Homo sapiens: one gene and its partners. The protein of the gene in region 7 purifies or fractionates together with the protein of the main gene of each other region. This does not show direct contact. Each region holds a gene or a part of one and is shown on either strand. Other genes may lie near its edges. The genes, in order: CPSF7, THOC2, ACOT9, TXNL1, SRSF3, IDH2 and KCMF1.

Region 1 (3,500 bases), on a different chromosome or scaffold from region 7:
ACAGGTTCTGCCGGGTGGCCGGCCTCACGTCCACTTTTTCTCCATTAAGAACTTTCCCTGGTAGGAGTTCCAACAATTTGTGGACAGAGTTTTCAGAGGCTACCACCACCTCAGCATACCTTAGGAAAGAAAAATTAAAAATGAATGAAATCTGTAGACAGCCAAGAGAAGAAAAAAGAAATTCTCTTCCACTTTTAGTAAAAATTGATAAAGCAAAGGACATCTTGCTAAACTAAACACACATACAGCACTAACAACAAAGAGACAGCCTAAATCTTTATTTTTTTGGAATTAAAAATCAGTATTCTTCGCCCCTTAACAGATGGATATTCTACTACACTGCAGCTAGGTCCCTTTCTAAGGCAGTTTGCCAAAACCAAGGCAGTAAGCTGGGCCAGGGGTGGGAGTGATTAAAATCCAGGGCCAAAATATAGTACAGATCTTTTATCCCAATGGTTACAAATTAAAAGGGGCTTCTCAAATCCAGACCTCACCCTTTGGACTGGCCATTTGCTCGATTCTCTGCAAATTTCAACTCCACCACATCATAGACTCCTATAGAGCGAATAACCTGGATCAGCTGCTGGTCTGTGGTCCACTGGGGCCGGCAAGATGGAAAAGGAAGAGATGTCAAGAGCTACACCCCCGCCCGCCAATGTCCCAAACCCAGGATTCTAGTCACAACTAAGTCCCCCCAGAGGAAACTCAAAAGCCTGGCAATATTTCAATTAGTGCAGACTTTTCTTATTGTCCTCACCCATACAGAATTCCAAACCCACTCACCCCCAATCTCCATCTTTAGAGATTACGAAGATTAAAACTTATTGTAACTTTGACTGCCGTTTGGGCTGGCTGGTCATCAGTTCAAACATTGACAGCTAGCAATTTTTTAATTATAGATCTGTCAGGCTAGAGTTGACCATTGCCAGAACTTCCCCCACAGTAAATATACTTCCTAATTTGGAAAAACCACCCCCACCACCAGCCCCAAAACATCACAAAATAACTTGCAGAACAACAGTCACCACCTACCCCAAGTATACTAGAGTTATCAAGGTCTTTAATCCCCATCACCCACCATTATCACAGGACCATCTAATGACCACCAAGAGTTCAAGGTGTTCACTCTGAAATCTCGTCCCTCAGATGACCCTGCTAGACATAAAGCCCCAGGGTCAGGGGCAGTAACAAGATGGCAGAAAAAGCAACTACCCACTTAATCATTGCTTTCTTCGGCACCAGTACGTCCTCAGGATAGTTCTCTTTCAGAGATCAATCCAACCTGATCCCAGGAAAAAGAAATCCAACCCCATCAGAGCACAAAACAGTGCAACAGTAGTTTCTGAAAATGCCATCACCTCCCAGTGCTCTCCCTCCAGCCCACCCCTAAGCATTTTTGGTTACCCACACTCACCCAGGAGAAGCTGCCCACATAAACGGCAGCTCGTCTATTACGCAGGCCACTGTAGGTATACAGAATTGCAGGGGTCTTGTTGTTGGGCTTGGGAGATGGCTCCTGGCGAACAGGAGGAGGTGGTTCAGTGCTGCTGCTTCTGTCATCTGAGGGCTGTGAGGTGGCTGTCAGCACATCATCATACAGGTCAATCTGATCTGTATTGTTGAACTCTGGGTCCTAAGAGATGAGGGGTTGGCAAAGGTAGGTCTGCAAACTTCATTTTGTTCATTCTATTTCACTCTAGTTTATTAGAATCCAGTTAAATACTTGGTAAAACATGTACAAAACTTCCTTGTCCTACCCCAGGAAACAAAGTAAGAAAAACCTCCTTTTGAAACTGTATCACTTAATTATGCTTATGTACATTTTTTTCCCCTCAAGATTCTGTTAATAGTCTGTAAAGTTTCTGGCTTTAGCCAACGGCAAGAATCAAAAAGCACTGGGTGATTAAGCAAGCAAAGAAAGAATGCATAATGAGATGCATGGGCTGCTGTTATCAATAAGGTCAGCTTCTAAAGACCACATCTAAGATAAGCTAATGAAAACTTATTTTCAGTATCTTATGCTATTTCCAAAATCAAGTGTTACATAAAATTCACTTGTCTATTTAATAATAAATTTATTTAGAAACAGAATGCAGAGGAAAAGCATGAAAGTGGGTACAAAAATGCAGAAAAGATTGGGAGTTACTGATTTAAATCCCTTGATTGGTATAAATGATTTAGGAAAGCTCTAAACTCATTGTACACAATCCCATCTTTCCATCGGAGAAAATAAAAAATAAATAAAAGGGAAGGGAATAACAACAGGGGTTTTCCCCTACTAAGTTCTATTTCTTAAATGACATACAGGCCCAATGCATTACCATGACATGTATCTAGGAGACTTTTTTTTTTTTTTGAGACAGGGTCTCACTTTGTCACCCAGGCTGGAGGGCAGTGGTGCAATTACAACTCACTGCAGCTTCAACCTCCTGGGCTCATGTGATCCTCCCACTTCAGTCTCCCAAGTAACTGGGGACTACAGACATGCGCAACCATGCCCAGCTAATTTTCAAATTTTTTTTGTAGAGACAGGGTTTCACCATGTTGCCCAGGCTAGTCTGGAACTCCTGGACTCAAGTGATCCACTGGCCTCGGCCTCCCAAAGTGCCGGGATTACAGGGGTGACTACCATGCCCAGCCAATATTCAATGATATACAAAAAACAGTTAAAGTTCTCTAAAATATAAGGGCCAGAAAACAGGACAAGAACATAAACTGTATCACACAGTAAGCATTTACAATATGAATATGTATTATGGAAAATGTGCAAAATACATATTCTGCCTATGTGATATCTTACTTACTATATACCAAAACCCCTAAAACTACAACTACTACTACTACGATACAGGACCTTAATGTTTAGGATTTTACAGGCTGGGTGCAGTGGCTCACGCCTTGTATCCCAGCACTTTAGGACGCAGAGATAGGCAAACTGCTTGAGCCCAAGAGTTTCAGACCAGCCTGGGCAACATGGTGAAACCCTATCTCTACAATAAATACAAAAATTAGTTGGGCATGGTGGCACACATCTATAGTCCCAGCTACTCGAGAGGCAGAAGGATCACTCGAGCCCGGGAGGTTGAGGTTGCAGTGAGCCAGCCTGGGCAACAGAGTGAGACCCCATATCAAAAAAAAAAAAAAAAAAAAAAAAAGGGTTCAGGATTCTACAATGTAATTACCTCAGAGAAATCTTTTTTTTTTTTTTTTTTTTTGAGACACAGTCTTGCTCCATTGCCCAGGCTGGAGTGCAGTGGCGCCATCTCAGCTCACTGCAACCTCTGCCTCTTGGGTTCAAGTGATTCTCCTGCCTCAGCCTCCTGAGTAGCTGGGATTACAGGCACACACCACCATGCCCAGCTAATTTTTGTATTTTTAGTAGAGATGGGGTTTCACCATGTTGGTCAGGCTGGTCTCAAACCCTTCATCTCGTGATCTGCCCACCTCGGCCTCCCAAAGTGCTAGGATTACAGGCGTGAGCCACCGTGCCTAGCCTCAGA
Region 2 (3,500 bases), on a different chromosome or scaffold from region 7:
TACAAAAAATTAGCCAGGCGTGGTGGCGCAGGCCTGTAATCCCAGCTACTTGGGAGGCTGAGGTGAGAGGATCACTTGAACCCCAGAGGCAGAAGTTGCAGTGAGCTGAGATCATGCCCCTTCACTCCAGACTGGATGACAGAAGGAGACTGTCTCAAAAAATAAAAATTAAAAAAAAAAAAAAAGCTGGATCAACACTAAGAAAAGTTATGAGAAATTTGTTTTAAGACTGCTAAGTAGGGTGACCAATTGTCAGGGTTTGCTGGGGATTCAGGGATTTCTGAGGATTTAAGACTTCAGTGCTAAAACTGGGAACATCCCAGGCAAACCAGGACCAACTGGTTACTCTACTGCTAAGCCAAATAAATTTTTCTGTGAAAAGCTGTGGTATATTGAAGTTTAAAGCATGTGAGAACTGATGCTGCAGCTTCTTTCGTTTGACTGGTTTATCCTAATTTGGGGGAAAAAACAGAGGAATGCCATATTCTTAATTGTATGAGGAAAAAAAATTGTTAGTACAATGGGAGGGGCTGCAGAGATGTGTATGCCAAATATATTATACATATATATACACACACAAAAATATATATATTTTTTCTATATATTCTATATATATGAAGATAACATATATATGAACATATATATTATACATGAACACACACACACACACACACACACACACACACACACACACATATATATGAAGATAACACAGAGTTGCTGCTATTGTTTCACATCCTTCAGTCTCTTTAGGATGAAAGAGCTCTCATCCAGAAAATTTTGTTTAAGTTAGGTATCACCCTTCATACGAACCTAAAGGAAGTCCTAAAACTAGTTACTTCCTTACGTTAGAAAATCACTTAAATCATTCTATTTGTGCTAAACACGTAACCCAAAACGAGATGATCAAAGGTTCTGCTTCCAGTTCTACACTGTGATAGGCAAAAGAGTCTCAGCTCCTTACAGCTCAGTTACCTGCCTTCCTTCCTGAGTGCTCAATTTTACAATTGTTCTAGAATTTTACAATTGTTCTAGAAGTGGGAAGATTTATGCTCTGTTATCCCCATTTTAGAGAGCATGCTGACAACCACTGAGACCACGTAAGTGACAAAGCTACAAAGAACATTAGTTACGAAAAAGGAGTCCCAATTGCATCAGAAACCTGAGGGAATAGCAGTTGGGAAAACAGAGAGTGTTTTTTAATTTAGAGGACAGGTCTTATTGAAGGTAACTAATATGAATCTAGATGAGCAGAATGACTTCTGCTAAGGTTCTAACAAAACGGGATAAAATAGGGCTGACATTATCTGCATAAAAGACAGCCTAATTACCTGTTCTGGGCAAGATCTAGAATATGAACTAGGTTAAAAGCCTATCTTTCAGACCTGTGTCTCAAGGTGGACCACAACCTCAACAATTAAAACTAAAAATTAGTTTATAGGTATGAGAGGGTTACATGATAGCTCCAATCTCCCCAGTCCTCTGGGTCTGAATCTGTGATTTCTATTGCTAGGAACCCCATAGTCACTATCTAGTTAGAAAAATAGGCTTGGTCAGAAAAGAAGGCTATACTTCGTATTTACCCAAGATGAATATGTCCTTGTCTAAAGTCAGTTTAACTCCCACTTCAAGTTCACACCTTCAGTCAAATGAAGAGACATAACAGTTCTACATTTCAAATTGCCTGGGGAACTAGACTTATGGAATAGAACTGATATCCACAATTATTGCTGTACTTCTCACTATTGTTCAAAAATCTCGTCTCAAGAATCTGAGCAGGCCAGGCACAGTGGCTCATGCCTATAATGCCAGCACTTTGGGAGGCCAAGGCAGGCGGATCACCTGAGGTCAGGAGTTTGAGACCAGCCTGGCCAACATGGTGAAATCTCATCTCTTCTAAAAATACAAAAATTAGCTGGGTGTGGTGGCGGGCACCTGTAATCCCAGCTACTTGGGAGCCTGGGATAGGAGTATCGCTTGAACCCGGGAGGTGGAAGTTGCAGTGAGCTGAGATTGCGCCACTGCACTCCAGCCTGGAAGACAGAGCGAGACTCCATCTCAAAAAAAAAAAAAAAAAAAAAAAAAAAATCTGGGCAGCGTTTGGCTGAATTATCCTCAAGAGAGCCTGCTGATAGTTTATAGAGGGGACATAGCAATCACCTAATATACATTTTCACTCTCTCAACGAAGGCTCTTCAACAGAGGCTTTCACTCAAGAAGCAAAAGCAAGGATCCCCAGGACAGCTTGGATGCCCATCCAGCACAACCACAAGATTGCTGGGAAACACCTTTTCCAGAGAGTGGCATGCTGCCTACAGATAAAAGACTTATATCTGACTTGGCTATACAGCCACTTTCATTTAGTTTTCTGTTTTCTTCCAAGCCTGAGAGGGAAATGCCATTTCTTTGTTTAGGTTTTTGTATCTCTTAAAAGACAAAGGTAATATTTTACACAAGTAAGAGAGAAAAAGTAGCTTGAATGACCTGCTCCATTTTCTGAGCTGGAAAAGTTCAGCCAACCACAGACAACCAGGTGTTCCTGTTTGCTAGGATTCCATATTGCTGATTAGTGTGTTCACTTAGCACAGGGCAGGTCAGAATTCCTAAGATGAAGAAATTCTCCCACCTCTGTCTGTCAAGAAATCAGGTACCCTCTTGCACAGCTGAGACTGATCTACCATGGGGTGTGACAACAGTAAGACGTTACACAAAGACGGCAAACAATTCTCTGGATTGAGAGGATCTAAAGGGGAAGAAGCAGCCTAACACCACTCCCTTATTGTCTTTTTCCCTTCAGAGTGTATACATAACACAGGAATTTCTGCATAGTGCTAACAAAGTGATAATTAAATCAAGTAGCAGTTAGTTAGGAAAGAAGTGGGAGACTGTAGCAGTTGATATGTAAACACTAACAGCAGATGTTTGATTAAATGATCAATTAGACTCCAAATTTCTCATCACCTTTTTTGTATACCTCTACCACACAGCTTCGTACCCCTATTGGAAACAAAGAAGGGATCCTAGTTTAGGGCCAAGACCTTCCCCCAAAATCTGTAGTGATATGTACTTACAGATAAAACCGTTAAGAAATAATTTGGATCGTTCTTGAGCGGCAGCAAAGACACTTGTACTTACCGAAATATGATGGGCATACATTGGCCTAGACAGGAAAAATGCTGCATCATGGGGTGTATGAAATTCATTACAGAGTACATCAATTGAAGGCACTCGCTTTATATAATCTTCTGTGCTCAGATTAGATGCTAAAAACCCACCAAACTGCACCAGGGTATCATGACACTAAATTTAAAAAATAAGACAAAATCAACATATTTTCCAAAGTGATTAAGAAGTCATTTTAGGAATATTTTAACAATTAAGAATCCAAATTTTATAACTTAAAAGGACTTTAGAGACTATCTACAAGTATAACCACATGACCATATTACAAAAAAAGATGCCAAGGCCCTGACAGGTTGACTAATCCAAGGTTTTACTAG
Region 3 (3,500 bases), on a different chromosome or scaffold from region 7:
CTTTCTACATATCATCACTGTATTTTCTCAGTAGTTTTTTTAATGTATGAACTTACAAAGTCAGAGAAACAACCTTCTAAAATGAAGATCAAATTCAGCTGGTATCAGTGTGGTATTCATTCAAAAACATAACATATTCCCACACACACCCAGACTGGTCCGAAATGTTTCATTTCAGTGGGGTGATATAAATTGCTTCTCAGAAGTTAAGGCTGCCTTACATGTAACTCACCCAAAGCTACAAGCAGTAGCCCACGCAAGTTCATATGCCTTCCTCATAAGGAAACCACCAAAGATCCGATTGAAAATGTTCCGCTCCTACAGGACATAAATAAATATCAATAAATACAAAACTTATGGCCACCTTTGTATACAGAACAGAGGAATTAACAATGCCACAGGACAAAGGCCAGTTTAAAGGTGTGTCAAATCTTGGACAAATATCATGAACGGAAGCTATCCTATTCGGATTTCTCACTAAATTATAATACCTGAGGGTGGCAAATTTCCAAACTCTTCAGTTTTGAATTCTCCATCCACACTGCATTAGAGGGTAAAACTCGACTCCGAAAACTTATAGTCCTGTACAAATGAATATTTATTAAACCCTGTTAATGCCATGGTTCTCTTGTTGAAAAGTAAAAACATTTGCAAGTCACTCCCAATACACTCAGACAACTGTGGCTCTGGAGAAGGCCAAGGTTTAGGCCAGGCGCGGTGGCTCACGCCTGTAATCCCAACACTTTGGGAGGCCGAGGCAGGCAGATCACATGAGGTCAGGAGCTTGAGACCAGCCTGGCCAACGTGGTGAAACCCCGTCTCTACTAAAAATACAAAATAATTAGCAGGCGTGGTGGCGGGCGCCTGTAATCCCAGCTACTTGGGAGGCTGAGACAGGAGAATTGCTTGAACCCGGGAGGCAGAGGTTGTAGTGAGCCAAGATCACGCCACTGCATTCCAGCCTGGGCAACAGGGTAAGACTCCATCTCAAAAACAAAAAAGGTCGGGTGTGGTGGCTCACGCCTGTAATCCCAGCACTTTGGGAGGTGGAGACAGGCAGATCACCTGAGGTCAGGAGTTCAAGACAAGCCTGACCAACATGGAGAAACCCCGTCTCTACTAAAAATACAAAATTAACCAGGCGTGGAGGTGCATGCCTATAATCCCAGCTACTCGGAGGCTGAGGCAGGAGAATCACTTGAACCCGGGAGGCAGAGGTTGCAGTGAGCCAAGATCGTGCCATTGCACTCCAGCCTGGGTAACAAGAGCGAAACTCCGTCTCAAAAAAAAAAAAAAAAAAAAAAGGCCAAGGTTTAAATGTTTTCCCAACGTGGAATCTCACCATCCTTACTTTGGATCCAGTGTGCTGAGAAACATCTCATGTATGGTGGTCCTCTCCTCAGCGCTGGGGGCCATTTTCAGTAACGACGTGGAGCTGAAGGCAATTCTTCTCCCCTTGTTCACTGGAACAAGGGAGAATAAGGAGCAATGATCAGGACGGTCGCACTACAGCACACGGTATTCTGACCTGGGATGCCTTTCAAAATCTCACTGAAAATTATACACGTATCCAAGAGAAAACTGCAGAGGCCACATAAAACTCCCAGTGAGTCTTTGGTTCCACATGGAAATTATATTGGTTCAGTGTGAGATCACTTGATATCATCCTGATCCAGAGCCCTGACCTGCAGTTATCCCATTGAGATGCATTTCTCACTTCATTAAAACGGAGAAAACAGGCCAGGTGCAGTGGCTCATGCCTGTAATCCCAACACTTTGGGAGGCGGAGGCAGGAGGATTGCTTGAGTCCAGGAGTTCAAGACCAGCCTGGGCAACATAGTGAGACCCCTGTCTCTACAAAGAAAAATTTTAATTAGCCAGGCATGGTGGCACGTGCCTATAGTCCTAGCTACTCAGGAGGCTGAGGTGGGTGGATAGCTTGGGCCCAGGAGATCGAGACTACAATATTGTTCATTGTAGCCTCAAACTCCTGGACCCAAGCCCAACTCCAGCCTGGGCAACAGAGCAAGAACTGTCTAAAAAAAAAAAACGGAGATAACAAATTACTTCACTTAATAAATATTGTCTGATCAATAAAATCATTCAAAGTATGGACTCCAAAGAAAAAAGAATAGCATATTTTTAATTTCAATAAATTATTGGTATGAATAAGACATTTGGGCCAGGCACAATGGCTCACGCCTGTAATCCCAGCACTTTGGGAGGCCAAGGCAGGCGGATCACGAGTTCAGGAGATCGAGACCATCCTGGCCAAAATGGTGAAACCCCATCTCTACTAAAAGTACAAAAATTAGCTGGGTGTGGTGGCGCGCACCTGTAGTCCCAGCTACTCAGGAGGCTGGGGCAGAAGAATCACTTGAACCCAGGAGGCAGAGGTTGCAGTGAGCCGAGATGGCACCACTGCACTCCAGCCTGGCAAGAGACAGAGAGACTCCATTTCAAAAAAAACAAACAAAAAAACAAACAAAAAAAAGACATTTGACTGGTATGAAGAGCCCATATAAAATCTTAAATAATCTCTTCTGCAGCGTAATTAATGTGCTTTTCAAATTTATTTTATTATAAACAAATTAATGTACATTCCCCTTGTCTAAAGAGCTCCTCTTCCTCTGGGCTTTCAGGGATGAGTGGATTTACAAATGCCGGCCTAAAAAGAAGAAAAAAAAGAATATAATTTAAGATATGCCATTATCTAATAAAACTTGAAGATGAACAATCACCTACTACTTTTAAAGAATCTGCTTTTCATTTTGGGTAGTGCTTACTGCTTGCCTTACATGTGAACGCTGGAACAATTAGGGAAGCCTTACAGTTACAGCCTTAATTGCACACTAGAAACTTAACATTATAAAAAGGATACTGGCATCTGCTAAATGTTTAACCTGATTCTAATCATGAGGAAACAGTCAAATATAGGTTGTAGAACACTCTACAAGAAAACTGGCTTTAGGCCGGGCGTGGTGGCTCACGCCTGTAATCCCAGCACTTTGAGAGGCCAAGCCGGGTGGGGATCACCTGAAGTTGGGAGTTTGAGACCAGCCTGACCAACAAGGAGAAACCTCGTTTCTACTAAAAATACAAAATTAGCCGGGCGTGGTGGCACATGCCTGTAATCCCAGCTACTCGGGAGGCTGAGGCAGGAGAATTGCTTGAACCCAGGAGGTGGAGGTTGCGGTGAGCCGAGATCGTGCCAGTGCACTCCAGCCTGGGCAACAAGAGCGAAACTCTGTCTCAAAAAAAGAAAAAAAAAAAAAAAAGAAAAAGAAAACTGGCTTGAACTCTTTAAAAATATCAATTTTTGAAAGACAGCAAATGGCAGAGAGACTATTCTAAAGAAACAGGATAACCAAATGCAATATACAATCCTTGATGGATTGGGTCCTGAATCAGGAAGATAGCTATAAAGGACATTTTAGGGACAACTGGTGAAATCTGAATACGGATCACATATTAAATAACTGTATCACTGTTGAATTTCT
Region 4 (3,500 bases), on a different chromosome or scaffold from region 7:
GGGCCCTAAATATGTAAAAATTTTTATCAACCTACCCCGATCTATGGATTTTGAAGAGGCAGAAAGAAGTGAACCAACTCAAGCTCTGGAACTGACAGAGGATGATATTAAAGAAGATGGCATTGTTCCACTTCGTTATGTTAAGTTTCAGAATGTTAACAGTGTAACTGTAAGTAGTATTTCGTTCATATGTATTTAATAGGTTTGTGAGTAACAATACTATTTTCAGTATCCTAGGTAAGTCTAAGTGATTCTTTAAAGTGGTATTTATTCACTCAGTTTGAAATGAGTAAAATGTTTAATGGGATAAATTTTCTTCTTTTTAATTTATGTACCCTAAAGAGGAAGGACAGATTGATTTTTGAATATTTGTGGGGTTTTGTCAGTTATTTTATATGTATATGGTAAGTTTTGCTGGAAGTTTATTCTACAACTTTATACTAAAACTGAAGATATTTGTGCTTTATTCTTTATACCTGGTATAGTAGTGATGTGTTTGTAAAATCTTATTTACTTTTCTTGAATATGGAGTTTTTAAGTGTGGTGGTCATGATCTTAGTAAAAATGACTTTTTATTTATTTATTTTTTTTTGAGATGGAGTCTCGCTGTGTTGCCCGGGCTGACTTGAACTCTTGGGCTCAAATAATCTTCCCGCCTCAGCCTCCTGAGAAGCTGGGATTACAGGCATGCACCACTGCACCTGGCTTAAAAATGACTTTTAAAAAGATAATACTACATTTTATAAGATGACCTAAGGTATATCTGAATTTTTTCTTCCTTTGAGGCAGGTTCTTGCTTTGTTGTCCAGGCTGGAGTACAGTGGCACGACCTTGGTTCAGTATAGCCCTGATCTACTGGGCTCAGGTGATTCTCCCTCAGCCTCCAGAGCAGTTGCAACCGCAGGCACGTGCCACCTCACCCAGCTAATTTTTTATTTTTGTAGAGGTGAAGTCTCTCCCTGTGTGGCCCAGGCTGGTCTCAAACTCCTGGGCTCAAGCAGTCCTCCCACCTCAGCCTCCCAAAGTGCTGGGTTTATAGGCTTCAGCCACTACACCCAGCCTTTCTGAAGATTGACTAGTGCTTGAGGTGATTTTAAGTGATGTATTTTAGATGTCATTATTAAAGTGCCACTCTCAAGAATCAGCTAATTTTTAGCAGTTATTAATTGCTTTTAAAAAATTTAGCATTGAAACCCAGCTCACACTTCTCACCTACAGTCATTTAGAGGAATGGGTAGGACAGTTAGAAAAGAATAGCAGAATACTTAGAAAAAGAAAGTAGGAACCAGCACAGAGCCACTGAGAATGTCATGCCAAACTGGTACAGCTTGTTTGTTGTGATGGAATAATTCTATTTTTGTAAATTAGAAGAATGCTAAAGTATGTGTTCATTTAAGAATGTTTTTGAGAGTTTCACAGAATATACATAGTAGTAGTATGAAGAATTATAATTGGCTGGGTGTTGTGGCTCACTCCTGTAATCCCAGCATTTTGGGAGGCCAAGATGGGCAGATTGCTCGAGCCCATGATTTTGAGACCAGCCTGGGCAACATGGTGAAACCCCATCTCTACAAAAAAATACAAGAACTAGCTGGGCATGGTGATGCGCCTGTAGTCCCAGCTACTCTGGAGGGACCACTTGAGCCTGGGAGATTGAGGCTTCAGTGAGCTGCAGTTGTGTCATTACACTCCAGTCTGGGTGACAAAAAAAAAAAAATTATAATCAAGTTGAGTTTTAAGTATTAGAAATATCCTACCCAAATGAAATCAAAGAAAATTGTTATATTAAACTTAGTATACTCATTATCAAATATTTTCTTGAAATAACATATGGCTGCCTATGAAAACAATAAAAACTGACGAATGAGTGGCATCTCAGAATGAAAGAAGTATGTTGTTTAAATCACGAGAGGCAGTTTTTAACTGGTCATGGGAGTACGCTGGTAGTCCCAGCTACTTGGGAGGCTTAGGCAGGGGCATCACTTGCACTAAAGAGTTCAGGACCAGCCTAGGTAACATAATGAGACCTTGTCTCAAAAAAGAGATAGGTGCAATATTTTAAAGTAGACAGCACCTAGAATATTGTGTTTTTAGAAATGGAGCAAATTTCAAAAATCCAATGTATGACAAAGGATCAATGAGTAAAACTTTTAGTTTTTATCGTGCTGAGGGGAGTTATTAAATATAGAGTCAAGCTTAAAAAAAAAATGAGGCACATAGTATTGTTTTAGGAGCTGATTCCCAATACTATTTTTTCTTTTAATATTCTAGGAAATAGAATGGATACAGGAATATCAGAAAGAATATCACTTTAGAGATTTTCCTCAGTGAAAAACTATGATTTTAATAAAATTTCCAATGATAGTCTGTCCCATTGTAATTGTAACTCTTAATACCCTTTCAACATTCTCTATAAAGAATTTAATTGCTGGGCGCGGTGGCTCACACCTGTAATCCCAGCACTTTGGGAGGCTGAGGCAGGAGGATTGCCTGAGCTCAGAAGTTCGAGACCACCCTGGGCAACACAGTGAAACCCTGTCTCTACTAAATTTAAAAAAAAAAAAAAAAAAAAAAAGATTAGCCGGGCGTGGCAGCATGTGCCTGTAGTCCCCCCTCCTCAGGAGGCTGAGGCAGGAGACTTGCTTGAACCTGAGAGGTGGAGGTTGCAGTGAGCTGAGATGGCACCACTGCACCCCAGCCTGGGCAACAGAGCAAGACTCCATCTCTTAAAAAAAAAAAAAAAAAAATTAGCCGGGTGTGCTGGTGGGCTACTCAGGAGGCTGAGGCTGGAGAATCGTTTGAACCTGGGAGGCGGAGGTTGCAGTGAGTCGAGATCGTGCCATTGCACTCCAGCCTGGGCAACAGAGTGAGACTCCATGTCAAAAAATACATATAGAGAGAGAATTTAATTGTGACTCTGCCATACTATCACACCAAGTTACCATGAACTTATATATATGGGTCTCTTGCCATGACATCTCTGGAGAAAGTGAGAATAGCAGGGCAAACAGCCCTATAATTAGTAGTCCTATCCTATAGGAGTACTAGTCTTAATGTTATATAATTTTGATTAATTTTTTTTTTTTTTTTGAGCCAGAGTTTTGCTCTTGTTGCCCGGGCTGGAGTGCAGTGGCACGATCTCAGCTCACTGCAACCTCCACCTCCTGGATTCAAGCGATTCTCCTGCCCCAGCCTCCCGAGTAGCTAGGATTACAGGTGCCAGTCACCACACCTGGTTAATTTTTTTGTGTTTTTAGTAGAGATGGGGTTTTGCCACGGTGGCCAGGCTGGTCTCGAACTCCTGACCTCAGGTGATCTGCCCACCTCAGCCTCCCAAAGTGCTGGGATTACAGACGTGAGCCACTGCACCCAGCCTAGATTAATTTTTACAAAGAATGGAGAATATTTATGTTATTAATTTAAGGAAATTGATTAAACTTAAAGCATGTTTGTGAAGAAGGATTGTAATTATAAATGCAAACTTTTTTTTGGTAGATATT
Region 5 (3,500 bases), on a different chromosome or scaffold from region 7:
AAGTGCTAGGAATTACAAGTGTGAGCCACCACATCCAGCCAGTGTCTTTGAAAACAATCAAATATAATCCTTAATGTTTCTTTACATTGTCATCAAGTATTAGTAACAGTGACTTCTAGTGAACACCTTGATCCTTAAACCACAGGTCTAAGTTCAGTTTTGTGATTCCTTTCATTTTTACACTCAACCCTGAATATGGACAAGACCGGTTAGTGTGACCTGTTATTTTAGGAATTACAACTTTAAAAATTCCTAATAGCCACAATCTAAATGTGCAATTCAAAGCTTTTAACAATTTCCATGTTCTAAAGTTTCTAAGAGTCTTGAGGTTATGCTAGGGCTCCTGGTTAAAGTAACTGCCAACTGGGACTGTATGTCACCTAAGTCAGGATAACTCCCTGGTGAAGTTACTTTTATTTCAGGTTCTGTATTATTTCTCTTAGCCATATTATACCCGTAACTGTCCTTTTTACAGAAACCCTTCCAACTTAAGAGCCTGCAAGGAAGTCATATACTGCCCAAAAATGCCCACATAAGTTGTCCATTTATAAAAAGCAATGTAATTGACATATTGCATGGCTTCCGTAACTTCTTAGCTATCTTGGCTTGTTCCTAACAGGAACAGGTTGTAGGCTATGTGAGAATACTAAAGACAAAATGCCCAATGCCAGAGCTCTCAGTAAATAAACAGGCTGTCTGAAAAGTGTCTTTCTTGAACATGCTTAACTTTAAGGCTGAACCTTCCTGACACCAATTCTCCCAAGATTTGTGTAAAAGGTGGAAATAAATAATTTGTTTAGGAACTGTATCTTAATGTATCCATTTAGCTTGAACTCTTAATGCAATGACTTATCTTTCATATTTAAGACAGTCAATACCGCATAATCCAAAACTATCTTAAGAGCATATTTAAGGAAACTAAGCCACAAGACTGTTGCATTATGATTTAATCTAATTGCACAAAAATTTGAAATTACAACACCTGCCATTTTCTAAGAGGAAGGTTATGCATGCCTCCATATTCAATTCTGCACTGTTACATTTGAACCATATTGTGAACTTTTACATCATGATGGATCAGCTTAGAATTCCCATGCAACACCTCAAATTATAAAATGGAAGCAATTTTTAGACCTGTGGAAAGTTTTCATGCTAAAGATAAAAGCCATTTGTTAATGGGCAACTTACTTTGTGTTTAAGAACCAGGTTGCTGCTATACTTTAAAATGTTGGTCACTAAATATTATGGACCCTGAACTGGCTTCTATGCCTAAAAAAAAAAAAAATGGGTTAACTATCACTTAGGTGACATCTATATTTCCTTCACTTCAGAAGACTAATCCATAGTGCCTCTCAGCTGTTTCTTATAAAATAAGAATCGTGTAACCAACTGCTTCCCATGGGATAAGAACAATGGTAACAGTGGGTTCAACTGACTATACACAATTATGCTAATATTTTATTAATTCAAAAGCACTTTACAAGAAAATATAAGTATGGCTTCCAATAGGAATGTTATACCTGGACTTGGTACCAAGCTCACAGATTTGAGTTTGCAAGGAAAAACAGGCTTTCAAGTTAAAGAACAATTTGTAACCAAAACTTTAATCCCAAGGATTCTCACAAAACATATTACAAATGACAGCATGAAAAAAAAATCTTGCACAGTAACTCAAAGTTCGGCTCTACAATGTACCCTTAAACTGGCAGGACATTTTTGAAATCACAAATTTGCACATAAAGAATGTCACGAACAGCCATGTATCCATATACAGCAATCAAATAAGGAACTTATGACCTAAAGCAAAGGTAAACTTTCTTGAAACTTAACATTCTATACCAACTAGGCAACCTCTGCCCAGGATGAGAGTTGGATTTTTCAAAAACCTCTAATTTAATAGTGCAGCATTTCGTTTTCCCTGATGGCCTGTGTTTCACAGCAGTTTTTAAAGACTGCTTGTTCAACTATAGCTGCAGCCTATATCCCAGCTATGGAAAAAAAAGTAAATCTTAGTTCAATTTTTGCCAGTTGTTTCTGTATTTAAATTTAAAAAAAAACACACTTCCGCTGGGCAGGTTTAGAGGTTTATTATCAGTCTGTGCATAACTAAAAGTTCAAAGCAAATTCAATTTTGCTTAAGGGAACATTGTAAAGTAACAATTCTTGGTATTACATGCCTCGTATGATCCATTTCAAACCATAGAGAATTACACCTTTGTGTCACTGTTTCAAGAGACAAACAGATTTGAACAGCTAAAACATCTTAAAAATGCACCAAGCTTATGAAGTCTCAAACAAAACTTGAATTTTCTGTACATACTCCTGTCAAATGAAGTAATTTCCTGTACACCACTTCTCTTGCAAACTGTCTTCTATTTCCTTTCATTTGACCTAGATCGACTAAAAAAAAAAAAAAAAAAAGAAAACAAAACATTACATCTGTAACTTGGTGACACTTTAGTGACATATCGAAATAGAACTTTAAGGTAAAAAATTTATGGCTTAGAAGACAGGCCTTAGCATACTATGTATGCAAAGTCTTAAATACAAGTTATCAAAGATCTTACCTACGAGACCTAGAGAAGGATCGGGACGGCTTGTGATTTCTCTCCCGAGACAGCGATCTCTCTCTTCTCCTATCTCTAGAAAGGGACCTAAACAAGCAAAAAAACATTAGGACCAATGAGGTATGATAAAATTATACATAAATATTTTCTTGATCTGGCATGGTGACTCATGCCAATAATTCCAATATTTTGGGAGGCAGAGGCAGGAGGCTCACTTGAAGCCAAGAGTTTGAGAACAGATTGGACAACAAAGTGAGATCCCATCTCCACAAAAAATAAATTAGCCAGGTATGGCAGTACTTGCCTGTAGTCCAAGCTACTCAGGAGGCTGAAGAGGGAGGATCACTCCAAGGCCAGGAGTTAAAGGCTACAGTGAGCTATAATCACACCACTGCACTCCAGCCTGGGTGACAGATCCTTTTTTAAAAAATTAAATACTTTCTAAAAAGCCTTTGAAAACTCAAAGAAAGCTGACTCATCCTTACAACTTGATTCACTATTAAAGCCAAGGTTTATTCCCATTAACTAAGCCACCTGGAAAAGTTTAGGAATAGCAGAAACACTGCCATTTCTAAGAACGTAGCCAAAAAAGGTAGTCATTTACCTGCTCCGGCTGCGAGAGAAGCTTCTCCTTCTTGGAGATCTAAAAGCAGAAACAGGAAAATTAGGCTCATCATCAATTAGTATTTATGGCGTGAGGCATTTCCCAACTTTTCAATCTCACTGTTGGGCCCAGTGAATGTGCCGAAGAACTGGCACCCATCGTCCAAAAAAAAAAAAAAAAAAAAAAAAAGAAAAAAAAGAAAAGAAAAAAAAGGCACAGAAGGATTAAGAAACAAAAAGCTCAAGTGAAAAGCAGGTATTCCAACCATGGATTCACTTTAACAAAGAATGCTTCACAGCAGATCTGTCCAATGCAAAACTTCATGTCAA
Region 6 (4,292 bases), on a different chromosome or scaffold from region 7:
GCTGGTCTGGAGCTCCCAGCCTCAAGCAATCCTCCCACCTCAGCCCCCCAAAATTCTGGGATTACAGGTGTAAGCCACAGTGCCTGGCCTTCCTTAGCTCTTGTACCCATATATCATACTAGTCAACATCTATCTTGCTTACTGTCTGCCCCCTCCCACATCAGAATTTGAGCTCCTAAGGGTTTTGAAAGAGTCTCTGCTGGTTTTATTCCCAGCTCTATCCCCAGCACCCGGCATGGTGTCTGGCACAAAGTAGGAGTATACTACTTTTGTCAAAGACATAAATAAAGGTCAAGTTGAAGTCAACTCCATCTGTGGTCAGGGCTGCCCTGCCCTCACCTTCTGTTTCACTGAATGTGTTTCCTCCCCTCTCACCCATCTGGTATGCATTGCCACACAGGGGCCAGTGAGTTCTTACCAGCAGCCTGCACCAGATGTACACGGGTGGCATCTCTCTCCAGCAATAGGCCCCATGCCCTGAAGAAGCTTACAACCTACAGTGTACTAATATTTGCAATCTGCTGGTATTTTTAACATGGGTTTACAGAGTATAAACCCCAGGGAAGGCCACAGACCCTGGCTTCCAGTAATCTGAGAGCAGTTTCCAGCACCTCATACCCTGAATGGAACCAGCCCAAGGGCCCTCAACTTCACACAGAAGATGTGGGAGCAGGCCTCAGCCATTCCAAAGAGGCTTTTCCTCAGTACCTACTAGGCCTAAACACAACCACCCCAATCAGCTCTGGCAGGGCAGCTAGGGCCTTATCTGACGTGGCAGAAAGATCTGCACACTTAAGGGGCAAGAATTAAGAAGTTTCTGGGTTAGGAGTGAAGGAAGGCTAGATAAGTAATTCTGCCACTGAGCCGTTCACAGAACTGGTCCGCACTGCCCCAAGCTCTAACTTACCAGAAACATCACCAGCAGTCGCTGGAAGCCTATGGCGTTGCAAAATAGGAAAAGATGCGTGCAGGAATTACCAGGCAGCAAAGACACGGGGCTCTTTTAGCCCCAAAATATTCTTTCCTTGTCATCAAGGGGAATGCCAAGTATTCTGTCTCCAGCTGCGTTGCCAGGTAACAAGCTGGCAGAGTCGCAACTGTAGAGTCTGATGTCCAACTCCAACACCAAGCAATTTCCCCATTCATAACCAACCCACATGGGGACTTCTAGAAGGGCCTGCAACTGACTGCTTTTTCTGTATCCAAATTCAGGACCCTTAAAAGGCGCTTTGTGTTCCTGTTTGTGTGTGTTTTTCGGGTTGTTTGTTTCTTTTTTTTTTTTTTACCATCAAGGCAGAAAAAAAGGGAGAATTAAAGAATGTGGCTAACTTCCACCATATTTTTGCTGAAGGTGGTGTGCTATATGGGAATCTTTGGGTCCTGGGGCACTTGGAACCTGGGAGTTGTTGGGCAGATCCCTGAGGTAGATTCCCAGAGGTACAAAAGCAGACATGCCCCTTTCTCCTTGGCAGGGAAGGTAGGACTGGGGCCCAAGCCTCCCTACCCCCCCGGCTCTAGTCAGCTGCTCCCACAATCCGGTTAACCATTACCTCCTCTGGCCAGGTCAGGGCCAGCGGGCCCCATCCCCTCTTCCTCACTCTCCTGGCTCACTGCAAGGGGCTCCTGGCCAGATTAGGATAGGGGTTTCCATGGCAACAGGCATTAGGCAGGGCCAAGGGACCTACATTGTTCCCTGCCTTTTGTAGCTGTGTTGGGTAGCCAGGGTGAGGGGGCAGGCCGATGCCCACACGCCAAGCAAGGCAGCCTGCGTTGGCAACGGAGGCTCGGGCTAAGTCTTGCTTATTACGACCCGACTACTGTCTTCCCTCCTAAGCAGGGAACTAAGGGTACCCAGAAGCCGTGGGAACGATTCCGCAAAGTGACATTTTGCGCGGGCTGCCAGGTCTCTGCGGCGAGTGAGCCAGGCAGGGAGGGCATGTGCCTGCCAAGGCAGGTCAAGTCAAGGAGAGGCCCCAGGATGGAGCCTCAAGTGCAGCGATGAAGGCGAAGGGGTGGGGGTGGGGGCGGCCAAACAAAAGGGGAAAATTAAAAAGGACGCTCCTCCAGCTGTCGTGTAAAAGGCTCCAAAAATAGCTGACGTGGGCCTGGTATCAGCGCGCGCCTGGCTGAAAAGGAAGGGGAAGTGCATGTCTCCCGCCTCCCAGCCTTTGTCTGAGCAGGGGCCGAGCCACGACCCTCCCTCTCGCCAGGGGAGCGCGCGGGGTGCTCCAGCCCCCCACGGGTGCTCGTCTCGTTCCAGGGGCGCAGGGCGGGCAGGCCACCCTTCGGGTCCGGGACACTCTCAGGACCCCCTCCCGAAATACCTAGGGGCGCGCGGCAGCCCCGAGCCCCCGCCCGCGCAGAGCTGGCCGTCGCCCGGGCCACCAGTTGCCACCGTCCCTCAAGTCCCCACCCCAGCGCCTGGCACGGCCGGGAAGCGCCGGGCGGGGGAGCGCGGAGCGAAGCTGCCCCGCGGCCCTTTGTGCGCCTGACCCCGCCGTCCCCGGGCTGCGGGCTGGCGGGACGTGCTTCCCGGCCCCAGCCTGGGAAGCCGCCACGTCGCAGCTGGGGGCGCGCGCCTGCCTGGACCCTCCGCGCGGCACTCACAGTGGCGCCGCGGCTGCTCTTGCGAGGTGGGGGCTGTCAGGGCCGCCGGCGCCCAGGCCGGCCGCGAGCCTGAGGCTCTGCAGAGCGAGCGCACGACCCGCAGGTAGCCGGCCATCCCAAGCTGGAGAGCGAACGAGCAGGGCGGGAGAGGTCCGAGCGCGCGCCGCTCCTCCCGGCTGCCTGGCCGCGGGCTAACGCTGGGCCTGGCGGGCGCTGGCCGCGCGGGCACCACCGGGGCGGGGCTGCCGGGCCTGCCGCCCCATTGGGCCTTGCCGGGGAGGAGGCGGGGCCAGGGCCGCCGACGCCTCCAGCGTCCCGCGGGAGCCGGGACCCGGCGGCCAGGCCCGGCTGGTGCTTCTCTGGGCGCCGCTGAAAGCCCAGCTCCGCAGGAGCTACAGGCGTGAGACCCACCGGGACCCGCGAGCGGGATCAGGGCTGGGGGATTAGCAGAGCCGCTTGCGAGGCTGACCCTCTCCAGGATGCCCCATGTAAACCTGGATGTCAGTTTCTGACGCTTTAGCTTAAACCCAAAAGCCAATCTGAGCGAACTCTTGCTTCCCTCGCCTGCCGGGCTGAACCCAAAGGCGCATTAGCCCAGTGCGGCTGCTTCATTCTTGAGCTAAGACCGCCGGCGGCGTCTGCGCCTCCGCGAGTCCGCTGTCAGGTCCAGCTGGTGTAGAGAGAGTTGAAATCTCACTTTGGGCCGGGCGCGGTGGCTCACGTCTGTAATCCTAGAACTTTTGGGAGGTCGAGGCAGGCGGATCACTTGAAGTCAGGAGTTCGAGACCAGGCTGGCTAACATAATGAAACCCCTGTCTCTACTAAAAATACAAAAATTGATCGGGCATGGTGGCGCGCGCCTGTAATCCCAGCTACTCAGGAGGCTGAGGCGGGAGAATCACTTGAACCTGAGAGGCAGAGATTGCAGTGAGCTGAGATCATGCCACTGCACTCCAGCCTGGGCAACAGAGTGAGACTCCGTCTCAAAAAAAAAAAAAAAAAACCACGAAAAAAGAAATATGATTGGACCAGAAGGCCAATAACCTGAGTGGGGAAACCCAGCAAGTCCTGTCCGTGTAGATTCTTCTTGACCTTTCTCTGCAGCATTCCTTCCTTCTGAGTACGGGGCAGGACTCTCTCTGGGATGGAGGGGTCTTAGGACCTGCAAGCAAACAAGGTAGGTCAGATAATTTATGGCCAGTTTTTACCCAGAAATGTGTGGGAGAAAGAGTAATATTTTTGGGTTCGATGTCTGGCTTTGGGGGAGAAGGGCTCTGGTTTCTATGACCTGCCTTGAGGAAGAAGGATTCCAGTTTCTATGGCTGGCCTCGGAGGAGAGTGAGGGGCCAAAGACAGGAGGGAGGGAGAGGGTCAGAGAGAGCTGCTCCTGAGGCCTGCATTTTGGGGTGTTGTTTTCTGAGACCCTAGAGTAGTCAAACAGCCACAGTAGAAACAGTTCCATTTTTGCCTGTTTGCATATAAAAGATGGGTTTGTTTGTTTGTTTTAATTAAAAATAGAGATGGGGGGATCTCACTATGTTGCCCAGGCTGGTCTCCAGCTCCTAAGCTTAAATGATCCTCCCGCCTCGGCCTCGCAAAGCACTGGGATTACAGGTGTGAGCCACTGCACCTGGCCACAAAAGACAGTTGTAATTGATTCTGCCACAAACAAAGTTTCTCTCTTC
Region 7 (3,500 bases):
CCGCCTTGGCCTCCCAAAGTGCTGGGATTACAGGCGTGAGCCACCACACCCGGCCCCACATGGGTTTTCAAATCAGCCATGTGCAGCCCTCATCCATATCTGTGCACTATCTGTACAGCAAGTAAAGTTACCTGGGACAGTCAGACTTAAGGGTTCTTTTTAATTGATCTCTTTAGTTGCTGTAAAGTTAACTGACTTACTAAAGTTAACATGAGGACTTGAGAGCATTCTCCTTTGTGATTTGAGGAACCCATGTTATTAGGCATTACCCACCTAATAGCAACCGACTAAAATGTGACGTGGAGGTTCAGGATCAACTTCTCTGAGACGAATCGTCTTTCAAAACTTGAATTTGCTAACCAAGTTGAGGAAGTGGCAACAAACATCAAGTCACATTTTATTCGAGGTCTGCTGCAGGGTTCCTTAAATAACGAATGTATGCATTTATAGAACACTGACAGAAATGGGTTGAAAAACTACAGAAACCAAGAGGCAAGAGTACGAATTAGAAACAAACGTTGTGTAAGCACAGTTGAAGCCGATAAGCACAGGGAATTAGATTTTTATACTATTCAGAAAAACAGTCACTTGAATTTGGCTTTGGAATACCGTAATGACTGACTCAGACATAGCCATGTTTAATAGCACAGAATTTCATGACATCGTCACAACCTGAAAGTCTGCAGACTGCTGCTCCATCCTGCACTCTAACCCTAACCTCTACCCACTCCAGGCCAGGCATAGGGTTTCAATTACTGTTGAGGCTGAAATGAGATGAGATGAGAGGCTCCTCCCCAGCCTCTTCCCTTCCACCTGCCCACCCCCATCCCACTTCCGGTCTCAAGGAGAGAACTGTTTTAGTGTCTAGTTGAGCTTTAGAAAGAGCACAGATAACCGTAACTGTTTTCCAGCATGAACACCAACTTTCGCGTATAATTCTGGGATAATTTCGTACCTAGTGTTTTAATTTTTTTTTTTTTTGAGACAGAGTCTTGCACCGTCGCCCGGGCTGGAGTGCAATGGCGGCGTGATCTCAGCTCACTGCAACCTCTGCCTCCCAGGTTCAAGCGATTCTCCTGCCTCAGCCTCCCGAGTAGCTGGGATTACAGGTGCCTGCCACCATGCCCAGCTAACTTTTTGTATTTTTTAGTAGAGATGGGGTTTCACTATGCTGGCCAAAATGGTCTCAAACTCGACCTCGTGATCCACCCGCCTCGGCCTCGCAAAGTGCTGGGATTACAGGCGTGAGCCACCACGCTCAGCCGTGTTTTAATTTTTACTGCACATGAAACCAATATTGCATGTGCCCCTTAAACTGTGCATGCAAACTAAGAAACAGGCATGTCATATATAGTAAACACGGCTGCAGGGCTTCTCTACAAAACTGTTAAGAGCTTTTAGCACCCATTCCTCCATCACACTTAGTTTTTTACACATGCCTGTATCAGTAAGCCATATCAGACCCCACTTACAGTAGACTTAATATTGGTACTGAACACTGTTACAGGAATCCCATTCAAAAGATTCTTTTCTGCAGCCACCTGCTACCGTAACCTCTCTAGTATTCTCCTTCTACCCCCCAACCCACTTTGTCCTTAACTAGAGCTATGAACTATTGATATATGTGCTTACCCCAACATCCATGGAGTAAATATATAAAGCGTTAATATTTGCAGTGAGGAGCCTAGCTTTTTTCCTGGAAACTAAGGCTTGGACGTATCAAGAGAACTCTGAACCTGTTACCCGTTCTTTTAACTGTGGCCCACAGACCGGAAAAAAACACAAAAGCCTTGGTGACCTTTGAAAATCTGTCAGCATATTATTGAAATTTCTAATATTGAGAGGGAAAATGGGGGGTGGGGATAATGGGCTGGATTTTTTTTGTTACGTCTATTATTTCTAATAGTGTAATCTGCTATCCTACTTCATTTCTCTGGGGGCCACAGGGAGAGAAGTTTTCTCTTACTTTACCTGAGCCTAATTATAAGAATCCACTACTTTGTTAGTAGCAAACCTAGGTTCTACTTCTGTGGATTTTTTTTTTTTTAACAAAACAATGCAATATAAATACAAAGATTTCACGGTAGCCAACCACAGAAATTCTGTCTTATGATTGCAGCCATACAAGGAAGCACAGTTATTTCTACTTGTTCAGAGCTGAAATTAAACTTCTTCCAGAGCACCTCGAGGGGAAAGATTTAAATGATTTCTAAACAGGAAGTAAAGACAAGCACTGTAGAACATTTATAAACTTATATCCTAGACACTCAAAACTCAACGAAACAAAAAATTCTCAAAATTCAGGATCTGGTCCTTAGAAATTTGAAGGTGCTGCCAAAATAAACAGTGGTATATTTTGATTTTGTCTCCATCAAAGTCTTTGCAATTAATTTTTATTCAATAGTACATCCAGTAATAAGATTTTCATTCAGAAACTAAAGAAAAAGGACACAAGAATTTCAAGGGCTTGAATATATTTTTATATTGATATTCTGTGTCGTTCTACCCTAAAATAATACATTATTGATTACATACAGGATGAGGTGAGGTATTTGTAAAATATCTGGTAAAAAATAATTAATATACAGTATTCTACATGAGATGGAATCTTATGACTCCTTAGGTCTTCTGCAGTGTTAAAAGTGATCATCTAAATTAAACTGCTCTGAATGGACTTACAGTTGTTCCCTAAAACCATGTTAAAAAATGAAGGCTTTTACATTTTCCCAGAATTTGTGCAGAAAAGGGAAAGTACATATAATTGGCATTTATTTCTCACATCCAAAATAATGCATTCACACAAAACCAGGATCTCCCATGTTTAGCATAAAAAGAAAAAAAATACTGGATTAGAGATATAAAATCTCAGAGTAATGGTTAGGTTAATCCACTAACACCAAAGAAATTCAAGTGGTCAACAGTCTTGAAAATGCTTTATTGAAATGTGTGACTTATGTGCAGATGTGTTTGAAAGACCACAGCTTGAAAACTGATTTTTGAAACTTCTCAACAACCAAATGAAAAAAAATGAAAATCCCTAATGGGCTTGACTTCTAGTGTAACCAGAAGCCTGGTGTAAAGTTTTCCTTTAAACATTATCCATTACAGAACTAAAGAAAACAAAGCTATTGTATTTGGAAATCGTTGGAGTTTGAAGTTTCAGAGGAGAAGCAACAGTTTTTCAGACATGTAGGGTGACTTCTTTTTTGGTTACATTTGGATGAACATGGACTTCACAGTTCTCGGAAGAACACCGGAGGGGTGTTCAAGTCTGTATGCTTGTCATGTTGAAGAAACGGAGATACACGGACAGGAAAGGAAAAGGATGACAGGAGAAAGAGAGGAGACTTTGAAAAGGGCTCAGAGAAAAGAGAACTGGAACGAGACATGATTAGGTTAAGTCTAGTTATAAATTTATCAGAAGCTGTGCGCACCTTTTTAAAAGTCCTAAATTTACATTCCAAAAACTGCCCTCCCAACCCCCAAACCCGCTGTCCCTG

Evidence for each region.
Region 1: the proteins of KCMF1 (region 7) and CPSF7 purify together in Homo sapiens (affinity purification with mass spectrometry; one large-scale study listed by BioGRID and IntAct). This does not show direct contact.
Region 2: the proteins of KCMF1 (region 7) and THOC2 purify together in Homo sapiens (co-immunoprecipitation; one large-scale study listed by IntAct). This does not show direct contact.
Region 3: the proteins of KCMF1 (region 7) and ACOT9 purify together in Homo sapiens (affinity purification with mass spectrometry; 3 studies listed by BioGRID and IntAct, with this or other methods). This does not show direct contact.
Region 4: the proteins of KCMF1 (region 7) and TXNL1 fractionate together in Homo sapiens (co-fractionation; one large-scale study listed by BioGRID). This does not show direct contact.
Region 5: the proteins of KCMF1 (region 7) and SRSF3 purify together in Homo sapiens (affinity purification with mass spectrometry, with the first as the bait; one large-scale study listed by BioGRID). This does not show direct contact.
Region 6: the proteins of KCMF1 (region 7) and IDH2 purify together in Homo sapiens (affinity purification with mass spectrometry; 3 studies listed by BioGRID and IntAct, with this or other methods). This does not show direct contact.

The regions. Positions count from the first base shown.
Region 1 is NC_000011.10:61,419,976-61,423,475, forward strand, and holds part of CPSF7 (cleavage and polyadenylation specificity factor subunit 7), read right to left. Parts: intron 1,664-3,500; exon of another isoform or gene 1,634-1,663; coding exon 1,415-1,633; intron 1,283-1,414; exon of another isoform or gene 1,217-1,282; intron 1,156-1,216; exon of another isoform or gene 1,082-1,155; coding exon of another isoform or gene 1,079-1,081; intron 599-1,078; coding exon 495-598; intron 120-494; coding exon 1-119.
Region 2 is NC_000023.11:123,628,553-123,632,052, forward strand, and holds part of THOC2 (THO complex subunit 2), read right to left. Parts: intron 3,301-3,500; coding exon 3,136-3,300; intron 1-3,135. UniProt on the Homo sapiens protein: Component of the THO subcomplex of the TREX complex which is thought to couple mRNA transcription, processing and nuclear export, and which specifically associates with spliced mRNA and not with unspliced pre-mRNA.
Region 3 is NC_000023.11:23,705,277-23,708,776, forward strand, and holds part of ACOT9 (acyl-coenzyme A thioesterase 9, mitochondrial isoform a precursor), read right to left. Parts: intron 2,669-3,500; coding exon 2,601-2,668; intron 1,464-2,600; coding exon 1,352-1,463; intron 583-1,351; coding exon 492-582; intron 319-491; coding exon 233-318; intron 1-232. UniProt on the Homo sapiens protein: Mitochondrial acyl-CoA thioesterase. Catalyzes the hydrolysis of acyl-CoAs into free fatty acids and coenzyme A (CoA), regulating their respective intracellular levels. Regulates both mitochondrial lipid and amino acid metabolism.
Region 4 is NC_000018.10:56,611,093-56,614,592, reverse strand, and holds part of TXNL1 (thioredoxin-like protein 1), read left to right. Parts: coding exon 1-169; intron 170-3,495; coding exon 3,496-3,500. UniProt on the Homo sapiens protein: Active thioredoxin with a redox potential of about -250 mV.
Region 5 is NC_000006.12:36,600,862-36,604,361, reverse strand, and holds part of SRSF3 (serine/arginine-rich splicing factor 3), read right to left. Parts: intron 3,211-3,500; coding exon 3,172-3,210; intron 2,655-3,171; coding exon 2,568-2,654; intron 2,401-2,567; coding exon 2,373-2,400; 3' UTR 1-2,372. UniProt on the Homo sapiens protein: Splicing factor, which binds the consensus motif 5'-C[ACU][AU]C[ACU][AC]C-3' within pre-mRNA and promotes specific exons inclusion during alternative splicing.
Region 6 is NC_000015.10:90,099,669-90,103,960, forward strand, and holds the start of IDH2 (isocitrate dehydrogenase [NADP], mitochondrial isoform 1 precursor), read right to left. Parts: upstream 2,801-4,292; 5' UTR 2,723-2,800; coding exon 2,608-2,722; exon of another isoform or gene 2,464-2,607; intron 954-2,463; exon of another isoform or gene 908-953; intron 1-907. UniProt on the Homo sapiens protein: Plays a role in intermediary metabolism and energy production. It may tightly associate or interact with the pyruvate dehydrogenase complex.
Region 7 is NC_000002.12:85,054,661-85,058,160, reverse strand, and holds part of KCMF1 (E3 ubiquitin-protein ligase KCMF1), read right to left. Parts: 3' UTR 1-3,500. UniProt on the Homo sapiens protein: E3 ubiquitin-protein ligase which accepts ubiquitin from an E2 ubiquitin-conjugating enzyme and then transfers it to targeted substrates, promoting their degradation by the proteasome.